2 separate regions of the Homo sapiens genome follow, and region 1 is linked to region 2. Evidence: fine-mapped expression QTL. Tissue or cell type: thyroid. Region 2 holds a variant in brackets; the other region holds the start of a gene. All regions are shown on one strand. Distances are between the middles of the regions.

What was found. PIP is the estimated chance that this variant, and not a neighbour inherited with it, causes the effect.
Region 1: CNTN4-AS1 starts here. The variant in region 2 is fine-mapped to the expression of CNTN4-AS1 in thyroid (GTEx, PIP above 0.99).

What each region holds. Positions count from the first base shown.
Region 1 is chr3:3,056,414-3,064,597 of GRCh38, reverse strand. It overlaps CNTN4-AS1 (CNTN4 antisense RNA 1), which reads left to right and starts at 3,453. Exons shown (of 4, transcript NR_046554.1): 1 at 3,453-3,531. CNTN4 (contactin 4) reads right to left here. Exons shown (of 25, transcript NM_175607.3): 25 at 6,639-8,184.
Region 2 is chr3:3,034,735-3,042,918 of GRCh38, reverse strand. It overlaps CNTN4 (contactin 4), which reads right to left. Exons shown (of 25, transcript NM_175607.3): 17 at 8,129-8,184; 18 at 5,591-5,740; 19 at 3,916-3,986; 20 at 2,648-2,882; 21 at 497-609. It overlaps CNTN4-AS1 (CNTN4 antisense RNA 1), which reads left to right. Exons shown (of 4, transcript NR_046554.1): 2 at 1-6; 3 at 1,765-1,874; 4 at 2,537-3,258. Among named protein-coding and RNA genes, the nearest start is that of CNTN4-AS1, 22 kb to the left of the region's middle. RefSeq lists enhancers at 4,263-4,372, 3,607-4,806. The variant C/G (reference allele first, on the strand shown) is at 3,992.

The DNA of each region.
Region 1 (8,184 bases), 22 kb before region 2:
CAAAGTGTTGGAATTACAGGCACGAGCCAGCAAACTCTTCTTAAAGGGCTAGATAGTAAATATTTTCAGCTTTGAGGACCATATGGTCTTTGTGGCAGCCACTCAGTTCTTCCGTGATAGCACAGAGTGGCCGTAGGCAATCTATAAATCAGCATGGCTATGTTGCAATAAATCTTGATTTACAAAAAAAGCGGGCAATGAGCTAGATTTTCCCAGAGGGCCAATATTGACACATGGCTTAATGGATTCAAAATATTTATGAATGTGTTTTTCTTTTTTTTAAGAAAAGCAACCAATTTGGGAAAATAATCATGTTTAATCAAATGAAAATATTCTATCCTGGGGGATCAATGGTAAAAAAAATTGTGTTTGACTGAACTTAACCTCATTATAAGTAGGTTTTGCAAGAAACACAGGTCCAGCATTGTGTTCATACCTTTATCTGTCACACTATTCACACCATCCTTCAATAAGTGTATTTCTGTCTCCTTCAGTGAACCATGAGGGAAGCCTTAACCCTATTTATCTCAGTTTCTCCAGTGCCCAGCAAGTGCTTGACACATAGTATGCACTCAATATCTTATTTGTTAACCACTAAATTCAAGAGGAACAACTGGGCCAATTCTAACTGCCAGTTATTTGGTCTCGGATATTTGGTCCCAACACTGCAGTTGATAAACGATGCGTCCACTACATAGTTTTCCAACGAGCTGTGCTGTGGCCTATGTTCCTGGCAACAAACCCATTTTTTTAAGCTTTCAGAATATTTCTGGAATCCCTTCCACCTGCTTTAACACCTTCTTGCCACATAATGTGGGCCTTTGCTGGGGAAAGATTCCCTTGTCTTAAAACTCTTTTCTGGGCTGGGTGCGGTGCCTCACGCCTGTCATCTCAGCACTTTGAGAAGCCAAGGTGGGTGGATCACCTGAGATCAGGGGTTCGAGACCAGCCTGACCAACATGGAGAAACCCGTCTCTACTAAAAATACAAAATTAGCCAGGCGTGGCGGCGCATGCTTGTAATCCCAGCTACTCAGGACGCTGAGGCAGGAGAATCACTTGAACCCGGGAGGCGGAGGTTGCAGTGAGCCGAGATTGCGCCATTGCACTCTATCCTGGGCAACAAGAGCAAAATTCCGTCTCAAAAAACAAACAAAAAAAAAACAAAACCTCTTTTCTGCCAGCTCTAAGAGGAACTTCACCCACCAGCCCTGTCTCTCTGGACACACACACATCCCATCCTCACACCATCCAAGGAAAAGTGGGAAGGAGAGTTCAGCAAACGAAACAGAACTCAAAACAGCAAACTTCATGTCTCGCCCTCAGAGCCATTGACCTTCAGAGATCTGACAACACATTCGCAAGACCCTGAAATTTTGAATTACAAATTAATTACTTCAATGAGAGTAATGAAGACCTCCTGGTGTCAGGTTGCCAGATTTAGCAAATAAAAATAAGAGGCTCAGTTAAAGTTGAATTTCAAATAAATATCACATGGGGCATACTTATACTAAGGAAGCATAATTTTTTTTTTATCTGAAATCTAAGTTTAATAGCTCCTCTCCTATTTTATTGGGTAATCCTGATCTTGAAGGGTAGCCGGAGTTTAAAGAAACAGCTCTAAGACACCTGAAGTCAAGGACAACGAACACGCAAAAAACAACATTTGCAGTCAAGGAAAGAGAAGCAGAGAAGCTGAGCCACTTTAGAGCAGACTGAAGCTCATGACTGCCTTTCCTTCTTGTTGCTATATGGGAACCGTATCTATCTGTCTATTTATCTATCTACCTACCTTATTGTTTATGTATCATCTATTTACAGATAGAGACATCTAATGTTTTGGAGTAGGGCCCTAAACCCAAGCCACCAGCATTTCAATTCCTGGTCTCTCTGATCAACTGTGTGATCAGGGACAAATGTGAACCTGTCAACCTCAATCCTCTGTGTATAAAATAGGAATAATAAATGGTAACTAAATCGGTAGGTTGATTTGCACTGAGTCTGGCACATATTATAAGCATAATCACTGTTTACTATTATTATTATCATTGCATTTCTCTGTATTGTGACAAAATACTGTTACTGGTGCCTTGGCTTCCTCACACACATCTGAATGCCACATCATTCTTCTATGCCCAGAATAGTGCCTGGTACAGAGAGGGCTGCCAGTAGTCCCTTGCTGAATAACTAAAACCCTCTCCAGGCACCTATCCTATCCCATTCCTCCAGATGGCTGTGCCCTGGGCCTGGCCGGCACTCAGAACTTCTCCACCTCCAGCATCTGAACCTCAGACATCTCACCCTTCTACCTCACCATTTCCTCTGGCCTACCTACTTGTCCTAGAATGTTCTCTAGTTGAACTTCAGAGTCTAGTTCCTTACTCCATCCTGTCCTTTCTCTAAGTACTTATTTCTAGGTGTATGAAATGCACTAATGAGTCTATGTTCTAAATTCTAGTCCTTCTTTTTTTTTTTTTCTTTTGTTTGAGACAGAGTCTCACTCTCTTGCCCAGGCTAGAGTGCAGTAGGGCAATCTCAGCTCACTACAACCTCTGCCTCCCAGGTTCAAGCAATCCTCCTGCCTCAGCCTCCTGGGTAACTGGGACTACAAGCACGTGCCACCATGCCCAGCTAATTTTTGTATTTTTAGTAGGAATGGGGTTTCACCATGTTGGCCAGGCTGGTCTCGAACTCTTGACCTTGTGATCCCCCCACCTCAGTCTCCCAAAGTGCTGGGATTACAGGTGTGAGCCACCATGCCCAGCCCTGACTTTCTAATTGTCTATGTTACTTTGGGCTTCTTATATAACCTCTTTGCTTCCATTTCATAAATAAAAAAGGAATAAAAACCTATGTCCTCCCCTTATTAGTGTGAAAAGCACTTTGAAAACTAGAAAAACAAATTAAAGATATTACTATTTGTTAAAGTCCTAGGACATATATATTTCCTGGTATAGTTCGTGTTATTCCTAACAATAAGGATATGTGGCAAAAACCCAGTTTACAGAGAATGGGGATATCACATGTAATTGCATCTATATTTAAGTAGCTCAGCCTTCCAATTTCCAGACTTTCAGATCGATCATATGGTTGACCTTTTTTAAAAAAAGCTTTCTCTCTATGTGATCTATATCACTAGAGCTCTGCTAATCTACCATGGCCCATAACTGCTTGTGATAAAGGATAGAGGCCAATTTTGTTTAAACTGTGATCTCTGTTGAGTATTGTAGTTTGCAGGTGAGTTGCAGAGCTGGAACATTTAATCCGCATGGCCCATTTAGCACAAGGGGAAACGGGGCCTCTTTGCAGAATGGGCAGCCTGACTTGCATTTACTAATCACACTCTGGCAGGGGGCCTGAGGAAATCACAGGAAACGGGGCCAGATATTCTCCTCCCTCTAGGTCTGAGATGGAGGTGACACAGGCCTTGTGCCTGGGAGCACAATGAGGAACCACACCCAGATGCCAACGCTGAGGTGCCGTGTGTCTACTATAAGGCGGAAGACACCAACAAAAATGATTTAAATATAAGGTACGAAGGGATGACTGACATGAGTGGGTACAGACCCCATCCCCTGGAGGTCAGAGAAATGCAAGGTCAATTTCAGATGGGGAAGCTGAGGGAGGCTTTGTGCAAAACCTGGCATCTGAATGGGAACCCTACTGCCTAAGTTTGAATTAGTTGATTGTATGATTAAAATTATCGAACATTAAAATTTATATTAAGAAGTGATCATGTTTAAATAAAAGGTGATAATGGATGTGTCAGCTGAGTTCCACTCATTTTGGTGATAAGAAGCATCCACATCCTACATCTGTGGGTCTAGTAAAGTCCCTGGAGAAAAAGAACAATAACAGACGGTAAAATCATCACTGTTTGGAGAGCTTTACAAACTTTATCCTCCCTAATAAGTAGCCAATCATTACAATGCACCCCAGGCAGTCAAACTCCAGGATCCACGTCCTTAGTCTTTGTATTAGGCTGCCTTTGTAAGGCCTCAGTGTCTGGCATTTTGTAATGGAAAAATCTGGGGTATGTCCACAGATTGAATATAAGTCCTTGATTTTAAAGGCTTGCCTTTCAAAGCACTATGGTTGGCCACATAACGTTTTTAGCCAGAACATTTTGTAAATTGTAACAACAGGAAAATAACAGTCACTTCTTGATTATAAGTGTTAACGGAGGAGAACAGTAGCATCGATAATCCAATGTAGTGAACAAAAATCACCTGTTGGTTGATTACATTAGATTAAAAACTGCATGACATTTTTGTTGCTAATTATGTGCTATTTGTATACTTTTTATAACTCAACATTCTTTGCGCATATTTGTAGTGAGGCAAGGTGGTGGAAGAGACTGGGTAAAGGTTAATCAGGATTTAACATTGCCTCCTGGATATAAACAACCACAATTTTGATGGTGGGAATAACACAATCATTCTTTCTTAATATCAAAGTCTATGCACCTTCTACCTCACAGGCTGGAAGAATTCAGAGCTTACCTGAGAAATGAAGCTTATCATCCATGTCTTCTGTGCCCATGGAAAGGTGCTGCTTTGTATGTAGCATGTGTGGGCTCCATAGAAAGTAGGTACACTGAGAGAATCCAAATATCTGGCACAATAGAATTTCCTTTCATACAGTTAAATCACAAGTGGACTACACACACAAAAAGGAGGGCAAGAGTAAGCACTTTGAAAGGTTAAACAAGCAAAGCAAATTTTCCTAGTGGTCCTCCTTCAGAAAAAAATCTCAAGCAGCAATATAGTCATTCCACTCGAGTGTATTACTTGGGCTAAGGGCCTAAGAAAGTCCCCTTGGCTGGCTAAGCCTAGAAAATCTGTTACTTATACCAACCCAGCATTTCTTCTCTTACCTTTGGAAAACAGCATCTTAGTTTTCCTTTAACTATCCCTCCCCTGTGAGTACAAGGTACTCTGGCTGTGGAACTCAAATGGAACTGATCACTTTCCCAGGAATCTGAATATTGAGCATAATGGCGTCAAAATTGGAAACAAAGCTGATTCATCCCCACAATAGCACCCCAAAAAGACTTTCCAAAGTTCCCATTGTCTGGACCCACAGAGTGGCCTGGTTCTTATTCTCCTCAAGAGTTGGTCCTTCAGTGTTTCCTTGGCTCATATGATGTAACCTGTGTCATTCTAATTCCTTACTTTTTGTTTGCTCAAGTTACCCAGGGTCGTTTCTTTGCTTACAGCCAGTGGACCCTACCTGAGGCAACCATGAAAGCCAACAAATGAGACAAGTTTGGGTGGAGGTGCTCATGGGGCACTTTCTAAAACATCTTCAATTCAGTTAGACTCAACTAATCCAGGACCTCATTTACCCGATGATGAAGCCAATTGGTCAAAGACTTCTTCCAGGTACAAAGTTAGAAGCCAGGCCTTTTAACGCTTTTCAGCACATAACGAAAGTAATGACACAGTCTTCCCTGGTTGGTTTGCTGTGGCACACAGGCAGGCAACTGATGCAAAATGCTACTTCAAAGACCCCTTCATTCAATTAATCAGTGAGTATTTATTGCAAGGCACTGTGCTAGGCACTATGGAGAGTACATGGAAGATAAGACCAAAGTCCCTGCCCTCAAGGAGCTTACAATCTAGTTGGGAAGACAAGCCATACATACAAGAAAAAGTAAGTAACAATACAGGAGTTAAATTAAAATGCAAGATAACAGTACAAGAGATTTCCAAAAGTAGTATCTGATTAATTACTAAATGAGCAGCATTGATAGGGGATGCAACTACTTCCAAGCGAGAATGTCATAAAGGACTGAAGCATGGGAAGTCTTTGCAGACAAACTGGGGCTGGAGCTACCCTAGGACAGCAGGGATCTGAATGGGAGAGAAGGGTGGAGAAGGCATTTCAGGAAGGGGCAGCCATAAGACCAAAGGCACAGAGGTGAGACCAAAAGCAAGCAGTGTTCAGGGGTCAGGGAGGGCTTACTGTGGCTGGATACACAGTTAAATCGTTTTGGATTAAAAAGGGCCTTAAGGGCCGGGTGCGGTGGCTCAAGCCTGTAATCCCAGCACTGTGGGAGGCCGAGGCGGGCAGATCACCTGAGGTCAGGTGTTTGAGACCAGCCTGACTAACATGGTGAAATCTCGTCTCTACTAAAAATCCAAAAATTAGTCCGGTGTAGTGGTGGGCGCCTCGGGAGGCTGAGGCAGGAGAATTGCTTGAACCTGGGAGGCGGAGGTTGCAGTGAGCCGAGATCGCAACATTGCACTCCAGCCTGGGTGACAAGAGTGAGACTCCGTCTCAAAAAAAAAAGAGCCTTAAATGCTCAAGCTTAGAACTTACCCTTTTAGCAATGGGGGGTGAGGGAAACAACAGATATACTTACAGTAAATATACAAAAGACTTAGCTAATCAAGAGAAAATATTCAAGTCTCATCTTCAGGACATTTACTTGTGGATTAGGACCCTCTCTACTTCCAAAGAGGATTTGAAATGGTGCTTCAGGGTTGTCAATTCCAAAGGAAAAGCTCTGGGTCATCTAGATTTGGGTAGAGACTTTTGAGTCCCTCTATGATCCCAAATTATAACTAGCACAAAGGTAAGCTAACAAATTCCCTGACAGGCAGGCAGGAAAAATGCTCCCGAAAGACAAGTATCTTTACAAATGACAGAATATTTATTAACAATACCTTTAAAAAAGATTACATATGCTAGATCACTGGTAAATATCATTTACACTGGGGTTGGGAACTCCCTGGGTGTCATTTTTTTTCGTTCATTTTATTATTTTGCTGATTTTTTTTTTGCATGTGATTTTAAATTTTATTTCAACATAGAAGTAACCATATCAAACTAAGAAAGGAACACAGCTTGAAATACTGACAATATTTTTTTCCGGTTACCACCCTAGTTTTTACACAAATGGAATCCCGATTATGACTTTATTGGATAAATATAACTAGAAGGTTGAAAAGTTATATTATTTGTAAGCAAAAATGACAAACTATAGCAAATTTGAGTTCTCTGAGAAAGAAGAAAAGGTGGCAGCATGTTTACATGAGAAAATGTTTATAGAAAATTCCATTGCCTTTTATGTCACTGTCCAGTAGGGTTTACTCACAAAACCTTTCTCATTGTAACAAATAGTTCTTTTCATAAGAATACAGTTTTGTTGATATTGTCATTTTCCAATGTGTGATTTTAAGACCTAGAAGGTAAAGCATATAAAGCAACTAGGCTACCTATTGCAAAACAGAATCATCAAGAAACCATACAATTGTACTAAAGAGCTTTTATAGAGTCATATTAAAAATTCTTGCAGCAACTATTTGTTGAAATAGGAGCAATCTTCCAAAGTCCATATGTAATTTTGATTCAAAAGAAGGGCTCTATTATTACAGAGATACACATATTATATATAAGAAATTTTGTAAAGAAATTACGAATCCATTGACAGAGAATTACTTTTTTTAAATTTACATTCAAAATAGATACAGTTAAAGATAATAAAATGATCTTTTATCCTTTGAAAGACTTGGTTGACTATAGTAACTTTGGGTCTATGTTACTACAGGATATATGTTACTTCAAATTTAATGTCTAAGATAATGCTACCACAAAGACAATGCTAACTCAGTTGAGTGAAAAGAAAATCTTCCTGTACAATGCTAAATTCAGGGATGGGAATATTGCACAAGGTGCCTCTTGGGCAGTACATTGAGCTTTTGAGATTGCAGCCATTCCTGAAACCATCTCAAGTTGGGTTGAACAACAAAATTCACAACGGCATGAAAACATACTGTACATGTCAAAATCACAACGGCATGGGAAACATACTGTACATGTCAAGTGCATTAACCACTAGAAGAGTAGTTTGCATACAACAGCCTTGAGTTACGGACCAAGTCTTCCGCTGTTCTGCCATGAGATCCTTGTAAAACTGTACGAGTAATTTGCAATTTATTTACCAAGATGAGTTTCAAACTCTGTCTTTAAAGGAAATATTTTCAAATTATAATTGCATGATTGTGTTGCCCATAGCATTTTACAGCCGAGGAAAAAATTAATATCTACATTATATGTTAACTTTAAAAAATTCTATAAAACACTAAATATATAATAAAAAATATGCATATAAGGACATATGTAAACTGCTTTGGTAACATCATATTACAGATGTCTTCAGTGCATTGCAGAGTTTCCA
Region 2 (8,184 bases):
CATCAGGTAATTTTGTACGCAGATTCTTATGATGGAGTTAGTTTTCTATACTACATCATGAGCAGAGCTATCAGGACAAAGGACTCTGTATATCCTGAGAAATTATCCAAAGTAAGAAGGGTCCCTTTTTTGTCCTTAGCTTCCTAGTGAGACGGTACATTGACACAACCGTCGTTCATTATTTTCTTTTTTCCCATGTTTGTTTTGAGTCAAAGTGATCCTGGGCATATCAGAAGTCAAAGCTCATTTTGCCAACCATCCCGTAAATGCTTAGATTTGCATATAATTCGAAAAATACCTCTAGAATATAACATAGAAAAAGGGTAGTCTCACAGCTGAGTATTCAATGCTTCCATTAATGTTCAGCTGGAAGCCAGGCCTAAAACCAATGCCTCTTAGTGGGAATGTGGGTCTCTTCCTATAAGAATGTGACTTGGAGGACTTATCAAGGGGCATAGACTCTCTTTCAGACCCAAGGCACATATGTCTTGCCTACCTCATAACCTTGTATTCGTCCTCTATTCTTCTCCAGTGGGGAGGCCCAGAAAACTTCAATATCTGTGGCAGAAAGACTTCTGGCAAAGATACTGGCTGGTGGTTTGGTGGGTTCTGTAGATGAATATGGAGATAGTTATTACTCTATCAGCTATATTAGGACAGGATTGTAGATACTAGCATTATAAGGTAAAATAATTCATGGTTATAGAATCGTCCTTAATGATTGTAAGCCAAACCCTCATTTTGCAGAGGGGCAGTGATTAATAGCTGGAGTTGGTGGTAGTGAATATTTGTCCAGTGTTTGGGTTCTGAATTTAGGTGTGGGTAGAAGAGAAGAACCACTTAAGTTTAAGCACCAAGTTTTCATAGCCAGCAATTCCCTTAACACAGATCCTTCTTAATTAGCATCTCACAAATGTTATTGCTTACGACATGGCTAAACTGCTTCTCTTTTTCTTTTTTGAAATAGGGTCTCACTCTGTCACCTAGGCTGGAATGTAGTGGCACAATCATGGCTCACTGCAGCCTGACCTCCTGAGCTCAAGCCATCCTCCCGCCTCAGCCTCCCAAGTAGCTGGGACCACACACACATGTGCCAACACGCCTGGCTAATGTTTTTTTGTAAAGACTTGGATCTTGCTATGTTGCCCAGGTTGGTCTCAAACTCCTAGGCTCATGCTATCCTCCCACATCCCCCTCCCAAAGTGCTGGGATTACAGGCATGAGCCACTGTGCTTGCCCACTAAATTTTTTTTAAGGAAGACTATTGAAAGAAAAATGTGAACATATACAAATGGTACACAGCTATGGCAGAAATCTGGCAAAAATAACTGAAATTTGGGAAACAGTCAGTCTAGCCTCTCCTTTGCAGCCAAAGATGCTGAGGCCCACAGAGTATACCTGAGTTATCCAAGATCATACAGATTGCAGTGTGAACCTGAAGTGTCATCCAGCTCTCTTGAATCTTAGTCAAGTCAGCTGACTGTCCTTTTCCCCTTTTCCTCTCATTTTCATAATCCAGAGACATGAACTATTATCTAAGAGAAGTTGAAGGCTATGAAAAGGGCTGAAGCTTGTTTGAATAATTGTAAATCCTTTGGCAATGGTTGGAACATGAAATATGCAGGGAAAGGCATCAGCAGCTGAGGCAGACAGAGAGGCAGCAGCTAGATCATGGAGGGCTACTGAGTCTAAGGGGATGATCTCTCTGATTGGGAATAAGTTATTGCATCTTCACTGACTCTAAATCAATGATTCACCTTTCAGATGTTTTAACATGGTCCCATTCTGAGCATCATCTTTAAAACAACATAGACGAACTCCAAAGGTAACGAAGACTGTGTGAGAGGCATCCCGAGAGCAGGGATAGCATGGAGGTGATAATAATGTGTGAGAAATGTTAAACATAATGATGGTGTGGATGACAGTGAGCGCAATCACACTGCTTCATGACTTACTCTTTTCTTTAATAAGTGAGATTTTTTTTTTTTTTTGAGATGGAGTTTTGCTCTTGTTGCCCAGGCTGGAGTGCAGTGGTGCGATCTCGGCTCACCGCAACCTCCGCCTCCTGGGTTCAAGTGATTCTCCTGTCTCAGCCTCCTGAGTAGCTGGGATTACAGGGATGTGCCACTACAACTGGCTAATTTTATATTTTTAGTAGAGATGGGTTTTCTCCATATTGGTCAGGCTGGTCCCGAACTCCCAACCTCAGGTGATCCACCCGCCTTGGCCTCCCAAAAGTGTTGGGATTACAGGTGTGAGCCACAAGTACCATATGCTTTATGAAAATACAAGTGGTAAGAAAATGCAAATTATATTTTGATATTCACTTAAAGGCAAAAATAAAATTCTTTTGAAAGTAATGATAACATATAGATAGATATGAAGATCTTATATGGTATTTGCAATTCTGGTCCTTAGCAATGGAATCAATAATGGACAGCCAAGTGTTTTCATATACAGAGCAGTCGCTATCTTTTCAAGAGATTCATGGTGGACAGCGAACCAAATTGTTTACATTATCCTCTTCTCAAATCAGGTATGCCTTCAAGATACATGTACCATGCGAAATTGATTGTACGTGCTACAATCCACATTTTAGAATTGAAGAAATATTAACAGTCAATGATCTAGGCAGCATAAACGATACCTTCTTCTGCAGAATACACCACCGTGGTGGGACTGAAAGGGCCTTCTCCTTTGTTGTTGAAGACACCTACTTTAACCTCAAAGGGAGAGAAGGGGTGCACGCTCTCATTCCTGAACACGTATCTAGAGGCATCAGCTGAGGCCAGCACTGTCAGCATCCAGATCATTTTACCGTAGGGCCGGAAGGCCACCACATAACCAAAGCCTCGACCATTCTGTAATTCCTCAGGGACCGTCTGGGAAAGAAGGAAGGTGGTCTTCAGAAATCACAGTAGTTTCACTCAAATGCAAAAATCGTTTTTGTTTCCCTTGTAACATTCTTGTCTACATCCTTCTCCACCCATCTTATTTGGCGTTTTGTTAACAGTCTTTTAAATTTAGGGCTTGCAGTCAGTCTATCTTAAACAGTTATGATGTACTGGACAGGGTTGAAAACGTAATGAGGATCTGCAGTCCAGAGCTTGCTCTTTGATGGGGCAGACCCAGCTCTGAAATGGTTGGAAATGATTGTAAAAAAAAAAACACTGGACATCGGTCTCCTGAAAAACCACATTTCCAACACGTATCCTCTAATACTAATCTTCTTCCATTGCCAAATAGACAAAAGATCTCACTGAAGGAAGAAAAACCATCTTGGCTGAAGATCCTCCCTCTCAGAGGGAAGAGTTCAGCTGGAGGGATGAGTGATTTCTTTCACTGCTGTGCTTTGGGTAAATGAGAGATTTTAATTTCTGGGGCTGTTTAGAATCTTTCAAAAACATGAAGAACCCTTTCTAAAGCTCCCACCTCTTCTCTCAAAGCCAATTTTTAATAAATTGGTGACTAACTTTCCTCCAGGTTGTTTTAAAAAATACCTCCTAAAAGAGGGCCCCTTCTAGAAGCAAAGCCAATTGCCAGGAAATTGTGCTGGTGCACTGAATCTATTGCTGGCAGACGTTTTAAATCAATTGGCCATGCAGCAATTCAGGAAGAAAAGAAAAACTAGTTTTCTCTGAAACAGCCTTCTTTATTTTTTTTTGTAACGTGTGTTGTCTTCCCTTCATAATTGTTTTTACTGTGATGGATTGAATTAAAACTTGCCTCAACAATGGATGGGCAAGTGCCGTCCTTCCTGCTAGCCATTAGCTACGTGAGAGGGAGTGTCTGAACCCAAATGAATTTTCACTGTTAAAAACAGAGGAGGAAACTTCCCAGCTATGTCTAACATGGAGGAAAATAATAAAATAGCTTCGATGCGTGTACGTTCCTTTTATTCTGTGATTCATTTACCTCCCAGGTTATAACCAGTTCAGATTTGCTGCCTCCGCCACCACTGACATTCGCTGGTGTGACTTCGGGGACTGCA[C/G]AAGGAGACAAAAAACAAGTTATGTCAGGCGGCAAAGGCGAATGAGGGCCAGGAAGGTTGCCTGGCAGAGGTGACTCACTTTCAGTGAGTACTCTGAGGCACGCCCCTTTGTCTCTGGAGATCAGCAACAGCATTGTCAAGGGGCCCACGGCGACCGCTCGAGGAAGTGAAATGTACCAAGGAGACTGCTATTAATTACCTGTTTCCCATTCAACAAGGCACACGTGTTATCTGACACGTCTGACCAATTGTTCAGCTCCATCCCTAGAGGCCGAGGGGTTCCCGAAGGGAGGAAAGGACTGAAGTCTGGTCCTAATGTTTGGTTATGCGTTTATGAGCCACGTGGAGATACACAAAGGGAAGAGTACAAGCTCTGCCCAGGCAGAGCTTACAAGCTGGTTGGAGTGGAGGAGCGCCTGCACCAGTTAGAGCAAGGTCGACAACCAGGGTAAGGAACAGTCAGCATGGAGAAGCGGGGGGCGTTCCGGAGTAGCGCCCTGCTCAGAGCTGGGGTGGGCGAATGGCTTCTGGGAGGAAGAGTTTTGATCTGAGTGTTGAAGGAAGTGGCAGACAGAAGTTGACCCCCGGCTCACTGAGCTTAACCTCTTTGATCACCAGTTTTCTCTATAAAAGAGAGGAAATTATGCGAGCTTCCACCTCAGGATTGCTGAGGGGAATTAATTCAATTATGGTTTTGGAAGGGGAAAAGAAAGCAGGGGACTAGCTATATTGTCATCACGTAACTGAAAGGCTCCGGGCCACATTTAAAAAGGTCTCACTGGGGTATGTGGCTGGTGACTGGGTATGTCTCCTTGGTTAAAGCCAATCAAATAGATCTAGATGAGTTTTTGCTTTTCTGAGAGTAGGGTCAGAACTCCTATTTGTGTAGGGACCTTATTATTCCTTCAACACACTGGCCTCTCTACAGGCGGGAACTCTATAAAAGACGGCACATGTAGGCCTCTTGCTTTACACCAGCTAAGTAAAAGTACGGCTGACCCTGATGAACTTGTTCTTCTCTCCCCGTGCTCATTCAAGCTGCATATGCAGAGGGCCATACTGAATTGCTGACTGGTCTTGTTCGAATGAGCACGATGTTCTGAATCTTCGTTTCTGGGAATGGTTTATACCCTAAGAAAGATAATCTAAGTGAACATTTCTGAAGAAATTATTTTTTATTTCTATTCTAAACAGGATTACCCCATGGTGGCTGTGTCCAGAGCAGTCACAAATTATTCTTTGCCATTAGTTACTTATGTGAGATAATTTTATTTGAAATGTGGGATTTTTTTTTGAAATTCTGTTAGAATCTTGGTGACAAATGAACCAATGAAGAAAGGGCTGGCTTTTGAGAGGACTAAGCACCGTGTGTCTCTTGCTGTACAAGTGGACCTAATGAAGAAAACAACTCTTGATTGAAACCCGTTGCGTGTTCAGCTGGGCTTCTCCTGGCCTGATTTCTATCATTATAAACATTTAAAGGGAAGGGTGAGCTAACACAGAGCCGCATGAGCGCTGAAGAGCAGCAAGAATTCAAACGCTTTTCCTAAGGAACAGCAGCTGGCAGAACAGATGATCTGAATCTCGGGTGCTACTCACGAGCTTCTTCTGTTCTCCGTTTCTCTGAGGGGCGGCTGGGCTCCCCAATCCCAATCACGTTGGCTGCAACTGTGCGGAATTCATATTCAACCCAAGGGTTCAAACCCACCACGGTCGCTGTGAATGTCTTCCCATCAATGAGTTCTGGGACTGAAAGACAACAAAAGGTGGGGGCTGTTTCATAGGTTCTCAGAAAACAAATGCAGAGATTACGTTAGGAAGATAGGAACATCCATCCATCCTCATCATTATTGTATTCAGGGCAGTGTAGGTGTTCTGATATTAGCTGCATCAACAGTTGTTTCAGTGAGGTAATCTCAGAACTATCTCTGTATGTTAAACTAACACACTCTAATCAGATACCAGCAGATGACATCATAAAAGACACACAGTCCACAAGACCCCAAACTACCTGACTCAATCATTACTATCACCCCTTCACATGTGTTTCCGCATTTATTGTATAGTGCCAGACACACTATTTCAACTATCCTCTGAGAAAGGTAAAAGTATTATATTCTTTTTTTCTTTTCTTTTTTTTTTTCTTTTTTTGAGACAGGGTCTCTCTCTCTCTCTCTCTGATGCCCAGGGTAGAGTGCAGTGGCACAATCTCGGCTCACTGCAACCTCCACCTCCCAGACTCATGCAATTCTTGTGCCTCAGCCTCCTGAGTAGCAGGGACTACAGGTGCATGCCACTATGCCTGTCTATTTTTTTTTTGTATTTTTAGTAGAGACGGGATTTCGCCTCATTTCCCAGACTGCTCTCAAACTCCTGGGCTCAAGCGATCCACCCGCCTTGGCCTATCAAAGTGCTGGGATGACAGTTGTGAGCCACTGCGCCTGGCCTATATTCATTCTTAAACAATTCTTATTGTGCCCATTTAACAGAAGAGGAAAATGAAGATGTATAGAGATCAGCTGATTAGCAGTCAGGTCTAGAATTCATCTCCTAACTTCTATATTTTTCTCATATTTCCTTCTTAAAGCACACCTGTGACTCAGTGATTACAGAAGGAAACACAGAAACCCATTTCTAAGGATTAGTAAACTAAAGTGAAAAAAACAAATGGGTTAAAATCAACAAGATTTATATGAATTGCTCAACACTGGGCATATTCTCCTTCAAAACATCAAGGCCATATAGCCTACTTTTGCTGTCTAGAGGAGTGTGTATCTTTGTTTGTAATAACTACTTGTTCATCCAATTTATCCTTAAATGAAATCTAAATAAGAAAATGAGTCAATTTGGAGGTACTGACAGAGTGGGGTTGGTATAAGAATTCTTTTACATGCAAAGAGAAATAACTGTGAAACTTTTAAAAAATAGGAAGTGCTGTATACATGTAATAAAGGGAAACAGGATGGAAGTGTTGCTGCTAACAATGTTTTTTTTTTTTTTAAGAATTTGTAAAATTGGTTAAAAAGAAATCTCATGTCTTTTTATCCCCAAATTTATCCATCTAAAAAAATGGGGCTGGACACAGTGGCTCACGCCTGAAATCCCAGCAATTTGGGAGGCTGATGGAGAATTGCTTGAGCGCAGGAGTTTGAGACCAGCCTAAGCAACATAGCAAGACCTGTCTCTACAAAAAATTTTAGAGAATTAGCTGGGTGTGGGGGCCTGCGCCTGTGGTCTCAGCTACTCAACAGGCTGAGGTGGGAAGATTGCTTGAGCCCAGGAGGTCGAGGCTGCAGTGTGCTGTGATTGTACCACTGCACTCCAGCCTGGGTGACAGAGTGAGACCCTGTCTCAAAAAACACAGCAGCAAGTGAAGAGGCTCCCTATAATCCTCTGTTATTGGTTTTTGAGAGCACTGTGTAAACTTTATGAAGTCTGTGACTATTAAGTGACTATAGTCAGGCAGAATCCGCTGCTTTCCAAAGTGAACCACAGTGCTACACAGATGATTTTAGGTAATACAGATTGATGCATTTTATTTTTATAACTAATATATTTTTAATGTGTGTTACGGAAAATACATATACAACCAGCACAACAGACTTTTTTTTTTTTTTTTTTTGAGACGGAGTCTCACTGTCACCCAGGCTGGAGTTCAGTGGTGTGATCTTGGCTCACTGCAACCTCTACCTCCTGGGCTCAAGCAATCCTCCCACCTCAGCCTCCTGAGTTGCTAGGACTGCAGGCACGCACCACCATGCCAGGCTAATTTTTGTATATTTTGTAGAGAGGGGGTTTTGCCATGTTGCCCAGGCTGGTCTGGAACTCCTGGGCTCACGCGATCCATCCAACTCTACCTCCCACAGTGCTGGGATTGCAGGCGTGAGCCACCAAATCTGGCCTGGACATTACCATTTCACAGATACTATTGCTTAGGATGAGTTTAAAAAAACCCAACTGTGATTTGATATAAAGAAAAATATTAATGATAGTACAGTTGGCCGAGGTTTAGGAAACACTGCCATAATATATCATTTGTAGTAGTGTCTGAATGAGAACTTAGACGTTCCTTGCCACAGTGCTGTGTCCAGTATGCTGAGTTCCCAATGTCTCTGAGCCAAGCATCCAATATGGTACCTGTACTGACTGCTTGCCAGCCCACGGAGAATGGAGTCCTGGCTTGAATGACATAC